Linked DNA regions of Homo sapiens. The protein of the gene in region 1 interacts with the protein of each later gene in a pairwise test. Each region holds a gene or a part of one and is shown on either strand. Other genes may lie near its edges.

The links.
Region 2: the proteins of ZBTB1 (region 1) and MAML3 interact in a two-hybrid assay, tested with the Homo sapiens proteins (one large-scale study listed by BioGRID and IntAct).

The regions. Positions count from the first base shown.
Region 1 is NC_000014.9:64,521,757-64,525,762, reverse strand, and holds the end of ZBTB1 (zinc finger and BTB domain-containing protein 1), read right to left. Parts: coding exon 2,117-4,006; 3' UTR 812-2,116; downstream 1-811.
Region 2 is NC_000004.12:139,727,544-139,731,367, reverse strand, and holds part of MAML3 (mastermind-like protein 3), read left to right. Parts: exon of another isoform or gene 1-700; coding exon 701-952; exon of another isoform or gene 953-1,093; intron 1,094-3,824. UniProt on the Homo sapiens protein: Acts as a transcriptional coactivator for NOTCH proteins. Has been shown to amplify NOTCH-induced transcription of HES1.

The DNA.
Region 1 (4,006 bases):
AAAATTAGAGAGTAAAGTTTATATATTTGCTTGCTAATTGTTAGCTGTTAGTACATATCAAAAGACTAAATTAAGCCCCCTTCCTAATGGAATAGATAATCGTTTCTTCAAAAAGTGGTAGTATTTAGAAAAAGCCCTATTCTTTAACAATGGGGAAAGCCACTGCAAGAAAAATTTTGATGAGTCACGAAAAAAGTGATCTCAAATAAATTATGTCCATTATGATACTATATACTGTAGTTTGGAAACTTGGTTTATCTGATCTCTTTATACCACTCTCTGATGGTCTCTGGGTTAGAGAACTTTTATCTGGTTCCTATCAGTAATATACATACCACATTTCATTTTAAGTTGGATTTCAAATTTAATTACTTGATAAACTATTGTATCTAAGTAAGGGTAAGATGAATCACTTTTCCTGCTTTTGCTGTTAAATTTTTAATTTTTGTGTGTATTCTACCCGTCCCCTGCCTACTTCCCGTTATTTGAATTCTGCACTTGGTTCCTGTGCTGTTCCTATCCTTACTTAACACTTCAACATATCCCCACAAATCTGAGCTCACATGGTGCTCTAATGCTTTCAACTAAATCTGTACTCACCAGTATGTCTCTCAGTTCTTTTGGCAACTTGTTCTTTTATGTAAATTGTATACAAAATATGATTTGCATATTTTAAATATGATGTGAACAAAAAGAGCAATGCTATTAGTGTTCAGAATCACAAATTTATATTTTTAAAATTAGGAGTTAATTAAAATCCCTTTCATTATGAAAAGGGTACTACATTGCAAGTAATTCACATTAAAAGGCATTCTATTCAATAGATGTGTTTATTGGTGGGTCAGTTTTGCCAATGTTTTAATTCACATGTAATTATGTAGACCCTGTGTCAGCAACAACTAACAATACTACTACTTTAACTGAAAAAATGATAAACTGTTTCCATTGATATACTCTGTGATTATTTTATAATCCTCAAGTTTTATAGTCTTTTACAGAAAAAAATGATAATAAAATATGGCGATAAACTGCAATTTGCCACATTTCCTCCAAATCTTAGACAGTATAAAACACAAGACATTTTTTTGTGCACTCTACTTTTATAGAACAACCAGGTTTATAATTGATCTCTTTATTTTATTAGATTTATCAATATACATGGAAGCTTTCTCAAATCTCAAAGTTCCAGAAGTATGTATTGTAAAAAATCATCTTTTCCTTTAGAGGTCATATTCTTAGAGAGCTATTAAAGTCTATTTATAAACAAAAATAATTGATAAGCTAACACACTTTAGAAATCAGAATATTTTAAATTAAAATATTTTTAATGAATACAAGATATGTCTTTTTAATTAACTATCATAGTTAAATTTAATATCACAAAACAAAATGGCTTATCCCCACTAATTTTTCAAGTGAGGTAAAGCCACTGGAATTTACACTTAATATAAGTTTTAAATGTGATAATTAAATGATAATATTTTATCAATTATAGGAAATATTCATTTATAAAAATTTCCTCAGGTTCATCAATCTTTTTAGGCCAAGTTTGAGCCCATGTCAACCTTAAAGGTTAGATTCAGTGCACCTAACTTGCCTAATAAGCTTGTCAATTTAAGAATATGAATTTCATTAATAAGGGGGAATAAAGAGTAGTTAACTCACTAAAAGCAAACGGGATAGTTTCAAATAATTACTTAAGGAATTTTTAAAATTTAAACAGAAATGGCCAATGATTCTGGGTTTAAAATTTCACAGGATAACCTTAAAAAAAAAAAAACACATAGAAATAGTGAAGTCATCACCTTATTGATGAAAAACTAAAGTTTAATAGTCATTGAATGGGTAACAACCACTTGTAGTCTACATTTAAAAATTTTAATCATAGCTAAGAAAAACTAAAAACAAATAATTCTATTAAGAAACAACAAAAATGATAAACATTTAATACCTAAATGTAGATACTTAAAATCCTAAACAAAAATATTAAAGTTAAAAGGGCCTTGAAATTTGTTTCTAACAAATCATCTTATATAATCAATTCCTAAATAGCTCATATCCTTTGCTTTGGTGTTTTATCTGCTATCATCTAAACATTAGTACAGTAGAAAATCACTCAGGTTCTTTTCAAATGCTTGGCATTATAATGTGATCTCATATCTTTCCTCAAATTAAATTTTGCTCCACATATTCCACATGTATACAGATGAACATCCATGTGCTGCTCCAACTGTTCATTATTTGGGAATATCTGAAAGCAGACCTGGCATATAGTCTCACCAGCAGATAAATGAGAAATCATATGCCGTACATGGTCATGTTTTCTGAAGTTTCCTTGATCACAAATGGAACAGACATACCTGGCCATGCCTTTGTGCATATCATTGTGCAGTCGCAACTGACGCTCTCTTAAAAACTGCTTTCCACATGTTTGACAAACAAACTGTTTTTCCTTAGTATGAACAGTATAGTGTTCTCTTAAGTGACACCGCTGATAAAATCCTTTTCCACACAGATTACAAAAATGCTTTCGTCTGTGATCTCTTTCATTTTCTTCCATGATGGCACTCTTAAACATATCTTGATCTAAGCAGCTAGACATATGTTCAACCACTAGATTTTCAGTTTCAAAACGCTGGCCACAATTAGGACATCGAAAAGGGCAGGCAGAATGTTTAAATAACTGCTTTTTTTGGATACTGTTTATCTGGTAATGATTGTCCCTAAAATCATCCAGCATTTCAACAAACATATCTCTTATTTCGGACTGCTCATCAGGATTCTCTTCCAAGTCCATTTTCTCCTCAGTATTTCCTAACCCATTCATGGTCAGATCTTGGGGCTCGCCACATCGTTGAGCATGTTCCTGAAGCTGCCTACCCTTTACAAGTATTTGTCCACATTTACCACATGCACAGATATTTTCAATGTGTTTGGCTAAGTAATGAGATGACAGGTCCTCCTCGGTTATTGTAAGTCCACACAGCTCACAAGATGCATTTTCAGCATCCTCTTGTACTGGACTGCTGTTGTTAGGGGGCCTCATATTCTCTAAACCACCTCTTTCATCAGCACTTACTGACATTCGAGGTTTTAGAGTTTTCCTACCACTTTTTTTTATGCTGACATCTTCTTCAACATAGTATCTATAAAATGGCTCTTCAGGTTCATCTTCTAATTCATCATTGTCAGTGGATTCATTACAGTCTTTATCAGTAACTTTAATAATGTTAAAGTCTTTCAGTTCATCTGTAGGAATATCTTCTGGCTCCATCTTAATAATAATCCTTTTCCTCTCAGCAGCTCTGCTTTTCTCTTCGCTTGCTATTTCAGACTCCACTGTGCTACTTTTTCTGCTTCCAGTGGTTGAAGCTGAATCATCAGCAGCCTGGCTTGTGTCTCCTCTGTATTTGTCCGTCTGTGCAGAAAATGTTTTGGAAGAATCTTTTTCACCAAATTCAGCTTTGATGTTACTGTCTTTTCCATCTCTAATATCTACTATTCTATGGTAAGATCTTGTGTTTTGGTATAAATGTCTGTTAGTACAGGTTAGCACATGCTCATCTAATAATTTTTCACAGCTAAAGCCAAATCCACAGCTATCACAGGTAAAACTCCGCCCAAAGCGTCTTGACACACGTTCTTTTGGAGTAGATAATTTGGACACGGAACTTTTTTTACATACATCAAATAGTGGCTCAGGAAAATTACCTAATTGTAAAGACTCTTCATCAGCCTCTCTATTATGTGGTGTATTTACCGTTGAACTTGGCTCTGCACACCACCTGTTGGCTTCATTGCCATTTCGAGCCACAGTATCTTCATACATTCTTACCCCAAATATCATTTTGCTGTTCTGTTTGCTGGAAGCAGAAGAGGAACATTTTGAACTAGAACAATCTGCATCCTGGATGTCTTCTAAACAGTCAGGAACATTGTATAGCTGTAGGTAGTTCATTGCCACTTTAAACTGCTCAAAACTGGAGGGAGCTGTCATAATTTTTCC
Region 2 (3,824 bases), on another chromosome or scaffold:
CTGGGCCTCCCAAAGTACTGGGATTACAGGCGTGAGACACCGCGCCCGGCCGACTCAATTCTATTTTTAAAAATATTAGGAGATTACATAGCTTTGATCGGTGTAAAACATTCCCAGTTCTCACCATCAACAACTCTGGCCAGGAGGATTTTTCTTTCTGACATATATCTAAGCTCTCAAATGTTGCAACTCGTTAGAATTCCATCAAATATCAGATCTGTTGATTAACAAATTCCTGCAGTTTTCTGCAAATGTCCCTCCTACTTGCAAAGAAGACGTCCATTTTGGCCAAGTAGACAGTAAGAAATAAGGATTAACAGGTGAGGTCAGGATGTGTCTCGTGTTCCAGACTTTAGGTGAGCTCAGCCTGAGGGCTTATTCCCTTTCCTTGGAGGAACACAGGATGTTAGTTGAAAATCCAGTCTATATGCAATAGTCAGTCCCATCCGAAACAGACTGGACTTGGCCTTGGACTTCCCAGAGCCATGCTCTCTTACTGTCCCTTGTGGCCTCTCTCATTCTACTCAGGTAAGGTCGGGTTTGAAGCTACGTTTATGGAAATGCAATGCGTGCCACTCAAAAACCCTCCAGTCCATAAGCTGGGACTTCTGCCCCGTTCCCTTTTTCCAGGGGCTTCCCTTCAAACAGCAGTGAGTCTCTATGGGGAATCCCTGCATCTCCCTCTCTCTTGTCTTCCCAGGAGCAGCATCCAGTTGGACTTCCCCGAACCACAGGCCCCATGCAGTCCTCCGTGCCCCCAGGCTCAGGTGGCATGGTCTCAGGAGCCAGTCCCGCAGGCCCCGGCTTCCTGGGCAGCCAGCCCCAAGCAGCCATCATGAAGCAGATGCTCATTGATCAGCGGGCCCAGTTGATAGAGCAGCAGAAGCAACAGTTCCTGCGGGAGCAAAGGCAGCAGCAGCAGCAGCAGCAGCAGCAGATTTTGGCGGAACAGGTAACATGCCCCTTGGCGTGATTCATTCATTCATTCAGCAAGCACTTATTCAGCACCTGCCTGCTGCCTGTGAGGAAGTGGCAGTTCACATCCTCCATCAAGATGCTCACGGTCTAGCATTTCCCAGGATCACAAGAGAACCTGAAGAATTTAGACCTTTCAATTAGTTAGGGTTTTTCCTATAATGAATTAATTTGTTCTTAAAAGACAGGCTCCAGCCATCAATTTGAAGGCCTGTGTGCCAGAGACATTTCTTTGATTCAAGTCTGACTCCTTTCCTTCTGATTTCTGGTACAGGGGTCTGTGTAATCAGCACATGGCGGGGACTGTCTCACATGCTCCATAAGCCGTAATATTTCTAGCTTGAAGAAAAAAATAATAATTCAGAGAACTCTGTTTCTTAGAGGAAATTGACAGGAAGAGGAATTGAGAAGAATTCTATAGAATGGGTAATGAACAATGGATCAGGAACAATAGCAGAATAATAAGGCCTGCAGAACTACCTGGAAACCTGAACTCTGGGTCACACACAGGGTGCAAACTTAAGAAAACTCCCCACAGCTTTTAAAACAGCTCAGGAAATCTGTGAGTTAAAGGAAAGCCTAACACAAATACAGCTTTACCTTAAGCATCTTTGTCCACCCTCGCCCTATAATTCCTCAGCTTTGAGAGAAAGCCTTCCCTGCAGACTGCTACTGTAGATTTCAATTTGTTTTGTTTTTAGAGATGCCCATACCTGACTTAGCATTATCCTAGGGAAAGGCCTGAGGCTGTCCACAAGAGATCCCCAGGCGGCTTCTGTGAGGGTCTGCACAGAGAATCTTGCACAGCAGGCTCTTTCTTATAGGAGGTGTGAGGTTGTCATATAAAGCTGAAGGCCCAACATAAGTCTGCCTCACAGTTATCCTTCTAGAATATTCCTGATAGGGTCAGAATTTTATGAATTTTTTCTTAAAGAAATAGAGACGGGGTCGCACTATGTTGACCAGGCTGGTCTCGAACTTCTGGCCTCAAGCGATCCTCCCATCTCAGCCTCCCAAAGTGCTAGGATTACAGATGTGAGCCACCACGCCCTGCCAGAATTTTGCAAATTTACTAAGCATCCACCACCGTGTATCCTGTGTAGGACACGGGCCCATGGAGGTCCCTATTAACCAAGAATAGCAGTTCAAAGTAACACCAGGCATCCCCCAAAGAGAAAAATTGTACTGCTGAGCACAGTTCACTTATGTTCCCTTTTTTTTTTTTTTTTTTTTTTTGCTTTTGTTCCTGAACAGCTGTGTAATTATCTCCCTTTTTACCAAGGTCAGTCAGCCGCCTGGCAGCTATTGTACAAACAAACCTCTATCCCTCTCACCTACATAAGGTGTGCGACAAGGAGCCATGCTAATCTCTCTCAGGCAGTGACAAATGGAGCTGCCGAGGGCAGCTGGGCTCTGTAAATCCTCTCCTCAGCCAATCCCAGGAAATCTCAGGTGTGCCTGATGTTTTGAGTGATGGCTTTTGATATGTGTGCTGTGACCAAAGACACAAAGAAGGCCCAGGGCAAGCAGGCAGAGCTCAGCTGTGCAGCCCAAGGGTGTTCCCACACGGTGAGGCCAGCCCGACCCTGGGGAGCACAGGGTGTGGGAAGAGTGTGAGAAGAGACACGTCAAGATGATGCCCCCAGACAAGGAGGTGAGAGGTCAGGGGAGACCCCTCAGAATCCAGAGCATGGAGAGAGCTGGGGCTTCTTGGGAAAGACAAGGGAAATGGGAAGCCGTGACCTGTGGATCATTCCGTAGCAACTGTGTGTACCAAAAGATGATGAGGGATGAGGGGAGGATCACTTTCCTCAGGGCCAAGATTTGTCCGTTCTTTTGCATGTGATGTGATTTTGGAAAAACCACTAACTTCCCTCTTCATCTGCCAGATTAGGTTTTAATAATTTCCCAGCCCACCTCATGTAGCTGCTTTAAGGATCACATAAGATCATGTGTATAAAATGTTTTGGAAGCTGTATGTGCTGCACACATGTATGTGGGGGCCTGTCACGTGGCCCTGGTGTCAGCGAATGTCATGTGAGAGCTGCAGCCACATGGCCCAGCCAGGTCAGTGGAGCGTCTTGCCTGTACCTGAGGAGGGTGCAGATTTAGTGCAGGTTGTCCAAGTGCAGGTCTACAAGGAGTAAGTGCTCAACTTTTTTTTGTTTGTTTTGTTTTGAGACAGGGTCTCACTTTGTCACCCAGGCTGGAGTGCAGTGGCATGATCTCGGCTCACTACAACCTCTGCCTGATGAGCTCAAGCAATCTTCCCACCTCAGCCTCCAGAATAGCTGGGACCACAGGCAAACACCATCACGCCTGGCTAATTTTTGTATTTTAGTAGAGATGGGGTTTCACCATGTTGGCCAGGCTGGTCTCGAACTCCTGGGCTCAAGCAATCTGCCTGCCTCGGCCTCCCAAAGTGCTGGGGTTACAGGTGTGAGCCACGGCACCCGGCCAGCTCTCAGTTTTTCGTTTTGAGAGTGAATACTGCCAGATCAACACCAATCTTGGTTGCTGCAGCATTGAAAGTGTCCTCACACTTTGGATTTTGGAAACAGATTTTGGGTTTCCTGAAAGGACATGTGAGGGAAAACAGAAGGATTTGGGATCTTACATATTTTGGGAAACTTTAAAATGATTCTCAGTAGACTTGGCAATCAGAGCAGTGCAGGTTGAAAGTAGGCATGAATTCACATTTAATGCCGTATTCTCCAAAAGTTCAAAGCACATAACCTCTCATCCATTCACAAAGGTTAGACAGAACTTAGAAACATTCTACATCATGAAGTCCCATCATTTTACAAATGAGGAACTGAGGTTATGTGGGGAAACTGAGCTTATGTGAT